Linked DNA regions of Homo sapiens. The protein of the gene in region 5 purifies or fractionates together with the protein of the main gene of each other region. This does not show direct contact. Each region holds a gene or a part of one and is shown on either strand. Other genes may lie near its edges. The genes, in order: ATXN2L, KATNB1, CDKL1, WDR62 and KATNBL1.

What was found.
Region 1: the proteins of KATNBL1 (region 5) and ATXN2L purify together in Homo sapiens (affinity purification with mass spectrometry; one large-scale study listed by BioGRID and IntAct). This does not show direct contact.
Region 2: the proteins of KATNBL1 (region 5) and KATNB1 purify together in Homo sapiens (affinity purification with mass spectrometry; 4 studies listed by BioGRID and IntAct, with this or other methods). This does not show direct contact.
Region 3: the proteins of KATNBL1 (region 5) and CDKL1 purify together in Homo sapiens (tandem affinity purification; one large-scale study listed by IntAct). This does not show direct contact.
Region 4: the proteins of KATNBL1 (region 5) and WDR62 purify together in Homo sapiens (tandem affinity purification; one large-scale study listed by IntAct). This does not show direct contact.

What each region holds. Positions count from the first base shown.
Region 1 is NC_000016.10:28,832,999-28,835,773, reverse strand, and holds part of ATXN2L (ataxin-2-like protein), read right to left. Parts: intron 2,716-2,775; coding exon 2,420-2,715; intron 2,336-2,419; coding exon 2,266-2,335; intron 1,710-2,265; coding exon 1,563-1,709; intron 1,432-1,562; coding exon 1,359-1,431; intron 1,269-1,358; coding exon 1,081-1,268; intron 717-1,080; coding exon 587-716; intron 497-586; coding exon 375-496; intron 229-374; coding exon of another isoform or gene 226-228; coding exon 16-225; intron 1-15. UniProt on the Homo sapiens protein: Involved in the regulation of stress granule and P-body formation.
Region 2 is NC_000016.10:57,738,770-57,742,677, reverse strand, and holds part of KATNB1 (katanin p80 WD40 repeat-containing subunit B1), read right to left. Parts: intron 992-3,908; coding exon 861-991; intron 1-860.
Region 3 is NC_000014.9:50,386,783-50,390,690, forward strand, and holds part of CDKL1 (cyclin-dependent kinase-like 1), read right to left. Parts: intron 1-3,908.
Region 4 is NC_000019.10:36,102,753-36,106,016, reverse strand, and holds the end of WDR62 (WD repeat-containing protein 62), read right to left. Parts: coding exon 3,166-3,264; intron 3,070-3,165; coding exon 2,943-3,069; intron 2,862-2,942; coding exon 2,810-2,861; intron 2,675-2,809; coding exon 2,036-2,674; intron 1,500-2,035; coding exon 1,342-1,499; intron 1,250-1,341; coding exon 989-1,249; 3' UTR 909-988; downstream 1-908. UniProt on the Homo sapiens protein: Required for cerebral cortical development. Plays a role in neuronal proliferation and migration.
Region 5 is NC_000015.10:34,154,336-34,158,243, forward strand, and holds part of KATNBL1 (KATNB1-like protein 1), read right to left. Parts: intron 350-3,908; coding exon 309-349; intron 1-308.

The DNA.
Region 1 (2,775 bases), on a different chromosome or scaffold from region 5:
CAGCTGGGCTCTTACCTGGGTAACATGGGCCATGTTGGTGAAGCCGTGGGGCAGCTGCTGGTGGTGGATGGCATACACAGCGGCTGGCTGGGGGAAGCTGCTCTGAGGGGACTGGGCAGAAGGTCCCGGTGGCAGAGAGGGCGGCGTGCCTGTCAGGGCCCCTGGGTGGTACAGATTCTGCTGTGGCTGTCCACTGCCCAAGTGTGGGGCCTGCCCCGCCTGATGCTGCTGGGGAGGGGAAGGTTGAGTGCCACACAGGCCAGCAACTCGCTGGCCCCCAGTCCTCGCCACTCAGAAATGACCCCTAGCTCTATCCCTTCTTCTGGCCACCCATTCCTGCACCAGGACCACTCAGCACCCCCCATGGCAGGCACCTGGACAGGACTGGGGGCCGCATGCTGGGACTGCGGCTGGCTTCCAGTAGGCGTGGTAGCCGGCTGCGGCTGGTGGGCATGGAGCTGTGTGGCATGGTGTGGGTAGGACTGGTGAACAGTGGCTGCAGCAGGAAAGAGGGAGAACCAGTGCTGAGCACACCAGAGGGGGCTGGCACACAGCCCAGAGCAGAGGGACCAGGCGCAGGACTCACCATAAAGGGCTTGGGGGGTAGGCTGCTCTGCAGAAGGGTACTGAGGGGTAGAGGATGACACGATGGCCTGGGGATGGCTGCCCGACGTCAGCATGCGTGGGTTGCTCTGAAGCATGGGGGCAAACACCGGCTGGCGGGACAGAGAGAGGAGTGGTTGGCACAGCCGCCAGCTGGGAAGGTGTCCTCCTGCCAGTCACTGCGTGCACAGCACCGCTTGGGCCTCCTCACAATCACCCTATTGATTCAACATTCATAACGATCCCACCCAGCAGACACTATTTTCTCTACACTTCAGAGATACAGATGTCCAATGCCTTGTTACAGGTACCACCAGAGCCAGGGCTCAAGCCCAAGTCTGACACCGCCAATACCACAGAGGGCCGATCCCACCTACAACACTGCCTGCCACCCCTAGCCAGCTCCCAAGTCTCTGGAGAAGATGGGATCCCTAGCAGGGGCCCTGGATCCTCACTGCCCTCCTGGGCCGCAGTCACCTGTGAGGGGTAGTGGGCCATGGGCTGCATCATGGCTGGCTGGCCTGGGAACTGCTGAGGGTTGTAGGGGATGTAGGAAGAATAGGGCGTGGCAGCCACCAGAGGCGGGCCAGCAGCCGCGGCGGCCTGCATCATCGGCGGGGCTGAGGCTGGCTGGTGTTGGTCCGAGCGCTGCGGAGGAAGGGAGCCTGGAAGAGGAGGAGGAGAGGAGAGCTCAAGCTCCACCTGCCAGTAGGCCCTTGGCAGCCTCGCCGCCTGCCCCTCCCAGCCCTGCTCACCTTTTGCTCCCCGGTACTTGCCCTGCTGCCCAGGCACTGAATTGGATACAGGATATGGATACATCTGAGGTGCCTGGGGATGAGGACACAGATGAGGCTGAATGACTCGCTCACGAATGCCCAGACAGGCCTGACCTGGTCCCTCAACCAGCGCAACCAAATCCCACCCCGCTAACCCTGGGCCCGGCCAGTCTCTCTGCATACCTGCACAGCTGGTCCCATGTGGATCTGAGGTATGTAGGAGATGTACTGGGGGCTGTATAGCCCACTCTGGCCTGCTGTCAGCACCGGGATGGAGGGAGTTGAATGAGTCCGGGGCCCCGGAGAAGTTGGGGTACTGGTGGATTTATTCTGCAAAAACAAGGGAGGACAATTTTATTTTGTATTTTCCCCTCTACTCCTGGCCATGCCTAGAGTGGTAATAATTAACATTCGTGAAATGCTGCATACCAAACATATTCTGCACTTATCTTGATAAAGCCTCACATTAAACCCTATGAGGAGATGAGTATTCTAAAGTTACAGGTGAGGCAGAGAATGTAAGTGACGTCCAAGATCACAAACCTTCCAAATACAGGGGCTCAAGCCAAGTCAGCTGGCCTCTGTTCATGACTACCCCACTCCAATACTCCCTCAGCCAAATGCCAAGAACCAAAGAAAAGCCTGTTAACCCCTCATCAGACTCACTGGGATCCCTGATCCCCTGATCACCCAAACCTAGAGACCTGAGTCCATTTTCCCCAAGCCAGCCCCAAAGGTGCCATCCTTACATTTTTATGACATCTCCTCACACTGCCTGCCAGGCAAGTGGTCCTGGAAGTGAAGTGTTCCTCCCCCTATTCATCTATAAGCACTGCCCAAGTCTCCCCACAGAAACCAAAGTCCACATTCTCCTGTCCCAGCTCACCACAGACAGCAGAGGCTTTGTAGGATTGAACTCCTTAGCATTAGGGTTCAACGTTGATTTCTTTACTTGTCTGTGAGAGAAAGTACAGTAAATCTTCACGGCTTGCTCTCATCCCTCCTGCCATCCTCCCAGAGCCCCACCCCGCTCCACTCACTCAGCAACAGGGCCCTCATCTTTGTCTTCTCCCTTGATGAGGCCCACCGGGGGGCTGCCAGTTTGGCTTGGACAAGGTGGTGGGGGCTGCTCTGGCCCCTCAGTGCCTCCTGATGGTGCCAGGGGTGGTTTGTCCTCCTTATCCGATACGGACTCTGTCTTGGAGGAGACGGGAGACCCCATGGGCTCTGAAGTCAACAGACCATCAACCTCTTTCTCCTTTCCTTTGGGCTCCTCCTTTAAGATCCGGGGAGGAAAAGGATCCAGGCTGTTCTCAGGGGAGCTACTGGGCTGAAGCTGGAAGAGAGAAACACACACAGTCCAGTCTGACCCAGACCCTAGTCCTGGCTTTCTTCT
Region 2 (3,908 bases), on a different chromosome or scaffold from region 5:
TGGAACACCATTAAGCCATTCAAAATTATGTTGTAAAAGAATACTTGTTGACACAGGCAAATCCTTACAACATTGTTATTTTTAAAAACCAGGCTGCACAAGAGTGGCAGTGTATTTTTATTTATGTGTGTGTGCTTGTATGAGTATTTGTGTGTATACATGTGTACATGCATGTACAAGTGTGCACTTACGTGCATGTACACGTATATGTATCTGTCTCAGCATCTAGAAGGACTCACACCAAAACACCAACTGTGGTGGCCTTTGGATAACGGAACTATATGTAGTTAATTTTGTGTTTTCTCCTTTATGCACTCCTATTTGGAAAACAGTTTCCAGCATTGAACATATAGCTGCATAAATAGTGGGGAGATGCTATTTAAGAACTAGCTCCCTAACCAGCTCCAGCCAGGTCCCCTCAAATCCTCATTGGGGAATGAAGGCTGGGAATGAATTAAAATAAACGCCCACATGTTGCTGCCAGGCAGGCAGATGGGCAGGTGGGAGGGGAGGGGTACAAGTCTTTTGGCTCAACCACAGGCCCAGGGCTTATTTTAATCTTCTCACGCAGCCTGCCTGGAGTTCTTAATAGTACCACAGGCAGGTGACTCCCTCGCTCCTGAGGGCTGGCCACTGTCCCAGCCATGCTGGGCTGTCCTGGGCCTCACTGAGCAGACAGCTGGGGGAAGCACTGATGGTGTCCCCACCACGCCCCCTCCACCCCTGAGCTGGGCCCCAGCGGATAGGGGGCCCTGGGCTCAAGAGAGTCTGAGAAGCTGCTCACTCTTCAGCCTCCAACCCCTGTCCCCGTCCCCTCCCCAGGCCCTTGTCCTGACCCCCCGCCAGCTGTCGGGGCTCACCATGATGCAGTTGGGCTTGTTGATGGACCACAGGTTGACGCGGCAGTCATCCCCGCCTGTAGCCAGCAGCCGCCCGGAGGCTTTGCCCAGCACCAGTGAGGACACGTTGCTGGCATGCGCGACGATCTCTTCTACACAGGGAAGGAGAGGGAGAGGCCATCAGGGCGGCCCGATGGGGCCTTGTGAAGGAGGGGTGACCCTGCTCGGCTACCCGCTTTGGAACCTGAAGCCCAGTGGAAGGATCTGCCTCCTTCAGCTCCCCCTTTGGTGTCCACCATGAGCTGCAGGACCAGCAGACAGGGCAGGGCATGGGCCTGAGACGGAAATCACTGTTTCTCAACTTTCATCATGCCTGTCTTTCCTACCTTTAGACTTCACGATTTTCTTCCTGTTTCTGCATATCACCTGGTAATATTGACTAGTTATACGCAATTTTTAAAATTGACTTGCTATTTTTATTAGCTTGGGCTTAAGCAATGTCCATGAAATTACAAGTTTGATATACTCATGATACTCTTTCTATGATACAAAAAGAAAAACAATTATTGAAATAAAAAAAATTGACCCATGCACTGCCTACACACCTCTCAGCTGCTGCTTGTGTGTACATACAAACCCTGCTTTGGAGAACACACTTTAAGAACAACCGAAGTCACCTCTAGACAAGCTGCCCCCAGGTAAGCCTGCACAGGGCTTCGGCTCAGATTCACAATCACGGATCAGGTTCTGGTCTGAGGTCTGTGATCTGCTATTGCGTGGCCTTGGCTACTAGGTCACTTGTCCTCTGAGGGCCTGGCTCCTCGTCTGGAAAGTGGGGATGCCCGTGGTGTCTGCTCACACCTGATGCTGAGGACTCCCTCAGAGCGCGCCTACGTGCTGCTTAGTAGCAGGCGAGGGCTCCGTGACATTGGGCAGGCTCGGGGCTAGTCACCATGAGAGAGTGGGCATGGGGGCCTGGGCGGGCACCAGAGGGTGGGCTTCATGAGGAGGGGGCAGGAGGCAACAGACTGAGCAGCTGGGGTGGGGGTGAGGGCTGACCACACAGAGGAGGAGCCTGTGCAGACAGCCCAAGGCCCTGGCCTGGTCCGTGGAGATGGCAGACAGGAGCCTCGGAGGACTCCGCAGGGAGCAAAGCACAGGCAGGGAACCAAGAGGCGGCCCGGGCCTCAGAACCCATCCCTGCATGAGCTCCTCCTGGAAAGAAGGGAGAAAAAAGACAGTTCTCCCCACACAGGCCAGGGGAAAACCCCAAGGTGCTGACGCCCCGAGGCACCCGGAAGGCCAGCGTGGGTGACGCCAAGGAAAAGGGTGTTGGAGCCACGGCGCTCCACAGAGGCCCCTCCTGCACCCCAGCTCCGACTCCACCCTGCCTGGGTGTCTCTGCTGCGGGCTTCAGACCACAAGGAGGTTGGGAAACTGGGCCCAGGGAAGCTGCTTGCCAGAAACCTGGGCTCCAAGGGGCCACCAGGAATACCCAGGGGACAAGTCGCAGGCTGAATCTCACTGATGACACCCTGCCTCCTGGGCCGGTCGGGGCAGAGCCAGCACAGGCAGCAGCGCCAGCAAGGGCGAGGGTTCCCTGTGGGCCCAAACCTGGGCCAGGGCGCTGGGAGTTCGCCATGGGGATCCCAGGGAGCTGGGCCCCACTTTAGTCCCGTCTCGATGAGAGCCTTCTGTCCTCTGGACACTGTCGGGACAGAAACCTGAGGAATTCCAGCCACAGACGTGTCTGTTCAAGGTTTCCACCTGACCCAGAAAGAGGGCAAAGCACCTTCTCCCTGGCATTCCGTGCCCGAGCCTGGTGTCCTCTCCGTGGAGGCACTGCTCGCTCCCCCTGGCCTACCTGGAGGGCTCTGTCTGTCCCCTGGCCCTCACTCCTCCCAGGGAAAGTGTCTGGCTGGGCCCCACCTCACTGGGCCTCAGGACTGCTGCCCCTGGAGTCAGGGGCATTCATTCATAATATCAGTATTTCCTGGGTGCCTGTTCTAGGCCTTGCACGAAATATGCCCCAGTATAATCAGATGGTGGTGGGGGCGGGACACTGAGCTGGCAAAACCGCAGACTTTGGAGTGAGAAAGATTTAGAAGTTGGGCCCTTCTGGAGGAGCCCACATCACTCCCCTCTAAGCAGCCTGACCAGGGACTGACTGGAGCCCACAGAGGGAGGGCAGAGGGGCAGGGACACAGCACAGGCACCTGCAAAGGAGGCACGGGGCACCACCCCAAGAGCTCCTCCTTCATCCTGGCTTGTTGGACAGCAACCAACAGCCCAGGCCGAATACTTGATTTTCATACCAAAAATAAAAAATAAAAATCCTCAGTGTCTACTGGCAGGCCAAGCTCTGGGAGTACAACCTGGGCCCCACATCCAGCCAAAGCTGGGGAACATGGTGCGGCGTGGCCAGAGGGGCTGAGGATCAGCATCCCAAATGCAAGATACAAAGTACTAGGTTTCAACGACCTCATGTGGGCCACGCACCTCTGATCCTCACCAGACCCTGGAGCCACAAGGAGCCAGAGGTCACGTGGCCCTGGGCTCTTCAGAGTTGATTCCCACGGACACCACCGTGCACATGAAATCAGCAGCAGCAGCAGATGCCCAATACGCCTGATCTCATTACCTCCTGCTCGCACACACTGATGGCTTGGCCTTGCCTTTATGATAAAGCACGGCAGCCTCAGGAGGGCTGGGGTCCTGAGAACTCAGTAGGTCCGTGCGGCCCCACATTCCTCCTGCTGCTGTGCCACTGCCCATGGCCTCCCTTGAGTCCTTCCAATACACTGAGCCTCCTGCCTCAGGGCCTTTGCACTTGCTGTTCATGCAGCCTGCAGCATTCCCACCCCACCCCTACCCCTACCCCCCAGCTAACTGATTCAAAGCACAGGCACCAGCTTGCAACTAGAGGAGACACAGAGGGATACGGTTATCCAGTTCCTGCCTGTTGCTCTCCCCAGGCTCTGAGCTCCCGCTGTACAGAGACCTTGACTACTTTGTCCCCCAGTGGCTCCCCAGTGCCTAGCTCTGGGGAAAGGCCAGCTGTCGAAGGGA
Region 3 (3,908 bases), on a different chromosome or scaffold from region 5:
GGGCGCAGTGGCTCATGTCTGTAATCCCAGCACTTTGGGAGGCCGAGGTCAGGAGTTTGAGACCAGCCTGGCCATCTCTACTAAAAACACAAAAACCAGCCAGGTGTGGTGGCATGCACCTATAATCCCAGCTGCTCAAGAGACTGAGGCAGGAGAATCACTTGAATCTGGGAGGTGGAGGTTGCAGTAAGCCAAGATCGCGCCACTGTATTCCAGCCTGGAAGACAGAGCGAGACTCCGTCTCAAAAAGAAAAAAAAAAAAAGAATACAAAGAATTAGCCTAGTGTGGTGATGCATGCCTGTAGTCCCAGCTATTCAGGAGGCTGAGGTGGGAGGATCACCTGAGCCCTGGAGATTGAGGCTGCGGTGAGCCATCATTGCCCCACTGCACTCCAGCCTGGGCAACAGACTGAGACCCTGTCTTAAAAAAAAAAAAAAAATGGGGGTGGGGGTGGTGGGCCTGATGCGGTGACTCATGCCTGTAATCCCAGCACTTTGGGAGGCCGAGGCAGGTGGATCACCTGAAGTCAGGAGTTCACAACCAGCCTGTCCAACATGGTGAAACCCCGTCTCTACTAAAAATACAAGAAATTAGTTAGGCATGGTAGTGGGCACCTGTAATCCCAGCTACTCAGGAGGCTGAGGCAGGAGAATCGCTTGAGCCTGGGAGGCAGAGGTTGCAGTGAGCCCAGATCATATCATTACACTCCAGCCTGGGTGACAAGACCAAGACTCCATCTCAAAAAAAAAAAAGACTGAAAACCCAGCACCTTAGGCTTGCAGTCTGTGGCACTGAGCAGTAGCTGTCCACTTTAGATCAGACATGAGGACCCCAGTTTGCCCCAGTCTCCACCTCTCCATCTTGCCCTATATTCAGACTGCTTCCCTCATTTATGTTAACAGTGTGATTCCACAGACATTTGGGTTTGTTAATCCATAATCCATAACAGAAAATGCTGAACTCAGCTAAAACAATTAATAGACATATGTTATTAATTCACCTCAACAAGCCAATTAAACAATTTGAAGAGAGGGAGCCTAGAATGACCCCTATTAGCAAAAGCAGGATGAAATTCTTAAAGATGTCACAGGATTTTCCACTGAGGTGTTTGTTTGTTTGTTTTGTTTTTTTGAGACAGAGTCTTGCCCTGTCGCCCAGGCTGGAGCACAATGGCTCTATCTCGACTCACCGCCACCTCCACCTCCCGGGTTCAAGCGATTCTCCTGCCTCAGCCTCCCAAGTAGCTGTGGTTACAGGTGCCCGCCACCACACCTGGCTAATTTTTTGTATCTTTAGTAGAGACGGGGATGTTGGCCAGGCTGGTCTCAAACTCCTGACCTCGTGATCCACCTGCCTCAGCCTTCCAAAGTGCTGGGATCACAGGCATGAGCCACTGCAGCTGGCTGAGGTTTTTACTGAGTGAGGAAACACTCCTTCAACTAATATTTGAAGAGCAGAAGCCCTTCCAACTATGAAAGTTCTAATTAGATTCTAATGCTAGGGAGCATTTACATGGTACTCTTAGCATTTAGTGGATGTGGCACTGCACAGAGCACATTCAGTTAAGCACTTAATAAATGCTTTGGATAACAGGCAACCTTGACAGTCCTACTTCTTAAAGCATGTGCCTGTCACCATGATGGTAATGTGCCCAGCAGGACTTCTGGTCTGCTCTTTGAAGACAGTGAGCCTCTTGGGGGACTGTGTGAAGAGCTTTTGCCTCCAGCGCCTCCGTTGGCCGTTGGCCACAGCACTATGTTAAAATCCCACCTTCTGCCCTTCTGTCTGTGCTTTCCTCTTCTATGTTTACTCCCTTTGACCCTCTACTTTCCTGCTCTTGCATCCTTGAGGCTGCTTGACCGCTGTTAGATGTTTGGCCCAAGAGCCCTCTGCCCTCCTCAGCAAAAAATCAGCAAAGCAATGCCAAACAGGGACATAAATCATAGCGATAAGGCACGCCAGGCTCCAGGAAGCACCAGAGCTTGCCCAAGGTCACTCCACAGCTTCAAGCATGATCAGAAACTGAAGTTCCATAGCTGGGTGTGGTGGCTCATGCCTGTAATCCCTGTACTTAGGGAGGCCGAGGGAGGCGGATCATGAGATCAGGAGTTTGAGACCAGCCCGGACAACACAGTGAAACCCTGTCTCTACTGAAAATACAAAAATTAGCTGGGTGTGGTGGCACGCCCCTGTAGTCCTATCTACTGGGGGAGGCTAAGGCAGGATAATCGCTTGAACCCAGGAGGCAGAGGTTGCAGTGAGCCGAGATTGCGCTATTGCACTCCAGCCTGGGCAGCAGAGTGAGACTGTCTTCAAAAAAAAAAAAAAAAAAAAAAAAAAGAGAGAGAAAAGAAAACTGAAGTCTCTAACTGTAGCTCCTGTCCCCATGCCCCTGTCCCTTCTATAAGGCTACTGATCAAAGGGGACAGCAGGGAAAAAAGGGATGCTCTGGACATTCTGCAGGTTACTATTCACGATGAATTAAAATCAAATGAGAGCCTACTTCTGGCACCTAGGATACACTCAACAGTGCCACTCGCCCACACCCCATGCACCTTTTTTCATTTCTCTCCCTCAAAGAGTCATTTTACACATTTTTTCTAATCACTTACCAATGAAATTTTAATATCACAAATATACTATATATCTGTATATGAACCATATGTATATCTGTGCTTTAAACAATAAAAAAGTTAGATTTTTTTGCCACCTGCCAAGAACCAATTTTCACCCTTTAGGAGTGACCTTGTTCTCATTATGAATCTCTGCATTACGTTGTGATATTTATAATTAATTTTCAAATGGACATTTCCCCTCACACTTATTCTCATCTTTGTAGGTGGCAAACCTACAAAGGTTTGTACAAAGGTTTAGAAGGCTATTTTAGCCTTCTAAAATAGTCCATAGGGTTATGGAATGAGATATGGAAAGAACGGCTGTTCAGCTACAATCTGCACTCAGGCCTCCACAGAAGCCACAAATCTCACAGCTAAGGCCCTGCGGGAGAACGGGCAGTATAAATTCTGACGACCAGTCATTGGGAGACTTCAGAGTATGGTGTTTGGTATAAAGTGATGGATGGTTCTGGTATGGGGAAACCACATGGCATGAACTTGGGGACAGACAGAACTGTGTCTGCATTCCAGCTTACTGACCGGGAGGCCTTGGCAAATCATTAACCATACTGAATCCATTTGTAAAATGGGATAACAATATCTACCTTCTAAGGTTGTTATTAGTGTAACGATATCTACCTTCTAAGGTTGTTATTAGTGTAATTTGTGCATCCTAAGTAACAATGATACTTGGCAGTTTGTCCAAATTTACTAGGTCCCTTGCCCCTACCTGCCACATAGCAGTAGATGATTCCTTCTCTTTGTCTCACTTGTTTTTCTTGTTTTCTGGAGGGAGACATGTCATAGACAATGTCCCAGCTGCTGCTTTCAGCCCTTGACCAATGCTGGTCTAATATATTTTAACGCCCCCATACCACCTGCCATAGGTAGAACGTCTGCCCAGGGATCCCACAGTGACACTGTCCTGTCCTTGACCTCCAACTCCGCTAGGAGCATCTACTTTTTCTGCCACTGCTGGCAGAAATTCTTTCTTTCCTCTTCTTACCATTTTCATTCCACAGAGAGAAGGTTCAGCAGCATAGGGGCTTGGGGCCTTAGTAATACAATTATTCTATTGTATTACTTTGTATTTGTATGGTTTGTATTTGTTTTGTATTTGTTTGTTTTGGTTTGTATTACTTTGTATTTGTATGGTTTGTATTTGTTTTGTATCTGTTTGTTTTGGTTTGTATTACTTTGTATTTGTATGGTTTGTATTTGTTTTGTATTTGTTTGTTTTGGTTTGTATTACTTTGTATTTGTATGGTTTGTATTTGTTTTGAACCACATAG
Region 4 (3,264 bases), on a different chromosome or scaffold from region 5:
TTAAAGAGACGGGGTTTTGGCCAGGTGCGGTGGCTCATGCCTGTAATCCCAGCACTTTGGGAGGCCGAGGTGGGCGGATCTCCCAAGGTCAGGAGTTTGAGACCAGCCTGGCCAACATGGCAAAACCCCGTCTCTACTAAAAATACAAAAATCAGCTGAGTATGGTGGTGGGTGCCTGTAATCCCAGCTACTCGGGAGGCTGAGGCAGGAGAATCGCTTGAACCCGGGAGGCGGAGGTTGCAGTGAGCCAAGATCGCACCACTGCACTCTAGCCTGGATGACACAGCAAGATTCCATCTCAAAAACAAAAATAAATAAATAAATACATGAAATAAAGAGATGGGGTTTCACCAAGTTGCCCAGGCTGGTCTCAAACTCCTGGCCTCAAGCGATCCTCCCACCTCAGCCTCCTGAGTAGCCGGGATTATAGGTGCAGGCCACCATACCCAGCTTGGGCAAGCCTGTTCATGGGTCCTCAGTTTCCCCTGTTGCAGATGGGGACACCACCACCGTGGACTTTGTGGGATCTAGTGTGGCCTTGGCCCAGAGGCCCTGAGCCATGATATGGCAAAGCGTGGACTGCTGGGCAAGGTAGGCACATGGTGATCACAGCAGCCCCAGTGAGTTCTCAGGCACTGGCAGGGGGCAGGTAAGAGGGTCTGGCTCCTCCCTGGGGCACAAATGGGCCCCACTGGGTAAGCACCTCACACTGGTCTGTGGCAGCTCTGTGGGCAGTGTGGGAGGACTGGCCCTGAGGTCATGGCTGCAGTTCCTGAACTTCTTGGGAGCGCTGGTCCCATGCTCTCCACTGACAGACACGAGTCCTCTGGGCATCACCTTCTACCCTCCCTCCCCACTTCCACTTGAAGAGGGCTTTGTGGATAGGCCCAAACAGACACCAGGAACCATTCCTCAAAGCTGTCAGTTTATTCGCTTAAAATACCTAAGTCCTCAGAAGCAGCAGGGCTGCGGTGGAGGGGCTGCGCCCTCAGTGCCCCCGTGCCTTCCTCCGCACGGCCTGCACCAGCAGCTCCGAGTAGTGTTCCAGCAGGGCCTGCAGGTCTGGGCTGGCCAGGGGGTACAGCGTCGGTGGGGACGGGGGTCCTGGGCTGGGCAGAGCCTGGGCTGGGGCCACACTAGTCCCCACCAGGCATTCAGCCTCCAGCTGGCTGTGGATCCACAGGAAGGTGGAGACCAGCTCAGTCCGTGCCTGCTGCTGCCCGGTGTCCACCTGGCCACTGGAGACCAACTGCAAGGGATGCCAGCCTTGTCAGGGGCCACCAAGGCCGGGCGGTCTCAAGAGACCCCTCAACCCTTTCCCAACTCTGGGGCTTAGCTCACCACACGGTAAAGGTCGAGGGCTTCTTGGAAGGTGGTCTGCAGCCTGTGCAAGATGTTCCCCACCCTGCTCAGCTCAAGGGGAGATGGGGGCAGGGCTTCAACCGGCACCCAGGGCTCACTCCAGCGGGCAGGGCTGCCCTGTAACAGACCAAGTGCACCTGGGGTAGAGAGAAGGGAATGAGCAAGATGAGCTGCATTCCATTGGTGTGAGCGGCCAGAGCGACTGGGTGGACTCCATGCTGTACTTCTGTCTGGAACACTTCTCTGGGTCCCCAAGGCTCCCTCCCCTTCACTCCTACAGGTCTCTGCTCCAATGCAGCCTCCTCCCTGAAGCCTCTTCTTATCTTCTGGTTTGTAATCCCAACCCCTGTCCCCACCCTGCACTCCCTCGCCCTCCTCTGTCCCTCCTAAGCATGTGTCACTTCGTGATACATATGACGGGTTCCTTAAAGGTTTAGTCTGGGCATTGTCCCCATTGAAGCTGTCAGTTCTCTGTGTTGTTTACCACCATGTCCCATGTCCCAGGGTTTAGCACAAAGCCCAACATGTAATGCTCATTAAATATTTAAGTTAATGCACGAATGAATGAATGGCACAGTCCCTGTGGCCAGGTCAAGTATCCATCTTTGGAGCTGAGCCAACTAGCACACAGGATGAGCTTAGGGGACAGTCCTTGCTCCAGGGCTGTACTCACCGGAGGTGGGCTCCAGGAGGGAGGCAGTGCCGCCAGGGATGCCAGGCCGGGCCTCTGGAAGCTGGGGGTTACTGGGGTGGGCAGGAAGGCCAGGGGACTCAGGAGCTGGGAGACTTGGGCGAAAGGCAGAGCCGTGGAGCCTCAGGGCGCTCTCTTCCACAGGGCTAGGGGCTGGGAAGCTCACTGCAGGGACGGTGACGCCAGGCTGGGTATCCACGGGGGGCTGCAGGAGCCCATCACAGGCACTTGACAGGGTCAGTCTCAGGTTGGCCCGGGCCTCGTGGTTGCCCCAGGAACGCAGGGCAGGCTCTTGGCCCTCACTGTCCAAACTGGGTGTTGTCGCGGTGGTGATGGCCTGAAGCTCCTGGCCCAAGGAGGCCAGCTCCCCAACGGACGATGGCCTACGGAGGGGCTGGGCCAGTGTGGCCACGATAGGGCCCTCACTGTCACCGAGGGAGATGCTGCGTGATATCCTGGCACGGGAGCTGGCAGTGGCCTCCATGTAGGAACAGGTGGAGGGGGCATGGACACCCTGAGCCAGGCCTGGGGTGGGTGCAGATGTGGGCGTTGGGAGATTCCTGTCTGTGGGCAGCACGGAGGAAGCAGGGACACAGGACGCCAGGCTCGTAAGGCAGGGAGCTGTAACGGAAGCAGATGGCACTGACTCCACCACACAGAACTGATGGCTAGGGCCCCCACGCCCCACAGCTAGGCTGGACATCCGGCCACTCGCCGAGAAACCCAGGACTGTCCGTCTGGGACTGGGGCACTCACGTGGTGGGCGCCAGGCCTCCAGGGTCTCTTCAGCCTTCCCTGCAGCGAGGACCTGCAGGCACAGCTCTGAGGTGAGGACAAGGCCTCAGGGTTCCCAGCCCCGTGCCCTGACGGAGGTGGGCCCAATACTCACGTGGGTCCTGTCTGGGGAGGCGTAGCCAGTACCTGCTCTGGGCTGGCTTCCGCCTCGGTCCATGAGCTTGACCTCTGGAGACTTCACAAGGCACTGGGTTGCCCGGGGAGGGAAGGTATGGGTGAACCTGTGGGGAGGAGAGCAGGGGGGATGATTCTCATTCAGCCTGCCCTGGGGCACTGTTGAGGAGCCAGAGGGTGGGCAGTGCTTGGCCAGCTTCTACCTGGATGCCTTCTGGAGGCTTGAGAGGAACTGCGTGGAGATACTCAGGCGTGGGTTGAAGAAGTGGTCTTCAGCTTCAGAGGCCTCCACGTCTCCCAGA
Region 5 (3,908 bases):
GAATGAATGTCATTCTTACCACTTTTCTAGCTATATGATTCTGAACAAATCATTTAACTTATCTGATCTTAAGTTTTCTCATCAACTGTTAGGGTTAATGTTATCTATAGAGTAGGCTATAGAGTAGGACTGTTGTAAGGAGCAGAGACAATATTGATGTGTTTATTAGTGCAGATACTGGCATAAAGAAGCTGTTTGACAATAAGTTAATTATTATTATGATAAAAGAATGCTTATTTTTCCCTTATTGTCATCCTTACCCAGCTTTCATATTTGTTGTTCCCCACAAACTTTAAAGAAACTCTTACCTATTTATGTAAGCAGCCAACTGTTTTGGAGATTTCTTAACCTGAAAAATGAAAGTAGATAGTTGATGTTAGAAACAAATGCTTGGTGCCGCAAAGAAGAATCAGCACTCCGGCAAAAAGCTTTCTCAGCAAGGCAATTTACTTCTGCAGAAGGGTGCCAATCGTGCCTGGAGTGGTCGCAAGAGCATACCGGGCATGGGAGGAGAAGGGGTTCTTATCCCTAATGCAGCTAGTCCCTACTACTGTGTCATTCCCCTATTGGCTAGGGTTGGACCGCACAGTCTAAACTAATTCTGATAGGCTATCTGGGTATGAGGCAGAGTGGCGGGGTGAGCAGTTTAGGCAGGAAGGATGGTTACAGTGCAGGTGACTAAGGATGACTAAGGACAGAGCAGGTGACTAAGGATGACTAAGGACTCTAAATATGTGAGTATAAAGGCTAGAAGGGGGTTGTTTACTGAAACTAGGGCAAGGAGGTGTAAAGAATGAGGAAGTTAAACTTTAAAATGGAGAACAAAGTATAAGAAAGCTGAACATACTGACATACTGGTTCCCAGAGGAACTCAGAACTCACTGTACTTAACAATATCCCCCTTTTGAATTTTACAGGTCTTCCTCTTCAAATTTCTTTAACATGTCTTGGCATAGCTGTTCTGCTTGGTTTTCTAAAAGAAAGAGCTTGTCAGAATATGGTGGAGGGGAACTGAGAGAAGTTTTAGTAAGGGCTGTTTCTGTATGTCTTTGGACTAGCCCACGGATGCGAGGTATGATGCAGCATCCAACAAGGATAAGCACTACTGCTACAATTGCAAGAGAAGTAAGGATGGTGGCTGTGATCCCTTTCCATTTACCAAACCATTTTTCTAGCCACCCTGTGAAGGGGTCATTTACTCCTGAGTTTTTTGCTAACTCATTGGACAGAGCAGTTAGACCTTGCAATGCCTTTGTTATACTTTCATCAGGGGCGGTATTGTTTGGGATGAAGGTACAACACTGAGTTTTAATCATGATGCAAACTTCCCCTTTTTCTGCTAAAATCATGTCTAAGGCCATTCTATTTTCCCAAGCCATCTGGCTAGTAAGCCCTAATTGCTCAGCTATTCCTTTAACAGCATCTCTAGTATAGTTAATAAACCGCTGTTGGTTGTAATAGGTGGAATTTATCTAATCTACGTTTTTATTAATTGTCACCCACCAAAATATTGACTCAAATCCAGCAGCTATTTGATCTCAGGTCTTAAATTTATTTGGTACTCCTCGTGGGACTCTAATTGCATCTAAATAAATGTGGGAGTCGAAAGACCCATAAGGGGCTTCCCTTGCTTTATGACATTGTGTTTTTTTCTTTCTCTGGTTGATGAAATGCCAGGGTGAAAGGGATAGCCAACTGCACTAGGGCGCAAGTGACACTCCAGTTACTAGGCAGAGTGTCCAGCAAAGGTCTACCACAATATCACCATACATCTGCTCGGGGGTGTATAAGGGCTGACTGGTTGGTGAGCTCTTGGAAAGTCTTAAGCTCACCGCATCCTTTTAGGTCTCTAAGGGATGCTAAGTTTCCTCTTTGTCGTGAGAGACACAAAATGAACTCAGTGTCGGGAGACAGAAGCTGGATGGCCCTCGGGGGCTAACCTGTGGGGTCTTGAACTTCGGGATATAGCAGAGAAAGAGCTTGGCACGACTTGTTACCCCAGGCTGTGGAATCCTGGAAAAAGAGCTACCATACAGCCCATGCCTGGTTGACTGGAGGACCATCATAGTGGAAAGGGGACAATCTGGCCCTCTGGCCTGCCATGCGCACGAGCATAACAATTGCTTTTGTTTAAAGTGCGGATGAAATATTTTATCTATTCTAACCAGGCATTGGCATTTTGATATCCCGTCTCAATTGCTAAAGTTTCTTTTAGGACTTTGACTTCTACAATAGCTACCTTCGTCTTGTCATTAGATGGAGGAAGAACAACAGTTTTGTTGTGGGAGGTTCTGGAAGAAGGCTTAGGGGAAGGTGTAGGCGGTGGGGGAGCAATGAAGAATATTTCAAAGGATCTGATAGGGTCTGCTCCTGAAACCTCAGCCCCCATATTATAAAACTGGCTTAAAGAAGGAAATTGGCTTAGAGAAGGGGAAGAACTTAGAGGGTTTGAGATAATAGCCTGTACTGGATTGTACTGATTTAGCTGACAGTTAGGGGAAGCTGTTCCTTTAGTAAAATGAATGTATAGCTTTAGGAAATTACAACTACTGCTTGGGGCAATCTATTCTTGCTCTTTAGTGGTCCACAGAATGTTGGACCAACTACAGCATAAAAGCTTTGTATTGGGAAGGCAAGACTCTCAGTTTATACTGGAATCTCCGTCAAACTCTTCCCAAGCTAACTTATCCCAGTTAACAGAATTCCAGTCTGAGAAGAGCTAGGAAGGACAAAGATACTTTTCTGAAGTGGAGAGTTGCCTCTGGCTTGGCACATCTCCACAGGGCATCACAAGGCAAGCATCAAAGGTAATAGTTTGGGGTGAACTCGACCTAGTTACATTAATAACAAGAGGACTAGCAATAGATGGGGAAAAGAAGAGATGCAACATAAGAGGATCAAACCCGTTTTAGCTTTAGCTTGGTTAGAGTAAGCCCTAGAATAGCTGCCCATGATTCTGGAGGAGGTGGTGCTCTTTTGACCTGGGTGTGATGAGTCCATCCCATTTCTGCTGTTTGAACTGTGGTCTCAATGGTTAGAAGCACTAGGCAGGGTCCTTCCTAAGCTGGTTCAAGTTTTCCTTCCCTCCAACTTTTGACAAGGATGTGGTCCCTAGGCTGATGTTGGTGTACTGGAAACTCTAGGGGTGGTGCCTGTGCTAAAAGACCTTTAGTTCTGAGGCAAGAGAAAGTGGAAGATAAACTTAAGTATATAATTTCTGAGAAACTGATCTTTTGTTTCGAACATGGGAATGTCAGCAGCGGAGTGCAAATAGAGCAACTTACACAACATTTCATAAGGGGATAAGCCAACATCTCTCTGAGGAGCAGTTCGGATTCTCAACAGGGCAATGGGAAGGCATCTAGTCCATGGCAACCGAGTCTCTAAGACTAATTTGCTTAAGTGGCTTTTTAGAGTTTGGTTCATTTTTTTCCCCACTCTTCCTGATGAAGGTGGGTGCCAGGGAGTATGATTTCCCATGTTATATCCAGTACCTGGGCTAATTTCTTAATGACATGTGCAATGAAATGAGTTCCATTATCTGAATCAATGTTTCCTATTAATCCAAACCTGGGTATAATATTTTCAACTAATGTTTTGACTACATTATTAGCAGTTGCACTTGAAAGGAAATAGCTTCTACCCAATGAGTAAGGTGATCTACTATTACTAATAAATATTTTAGACAACCAATTTGGGGCATCTTGGCGTAATCAACTTGGATACTTTGGAACAGTCTTAATTCCAGATACCTTCCCCTAAGAGGTGGTTTTCTGAGGGTCTGCTTATTAGTCATCCTAAATACTAGGCAACTATCTGTAACCTGTCATGTCAAAGTGTAAATTGCTACACATCCATAAACCCAAAGGACTGCATCACACATAGCTTGAGGTCCCCAATGAGTCTCT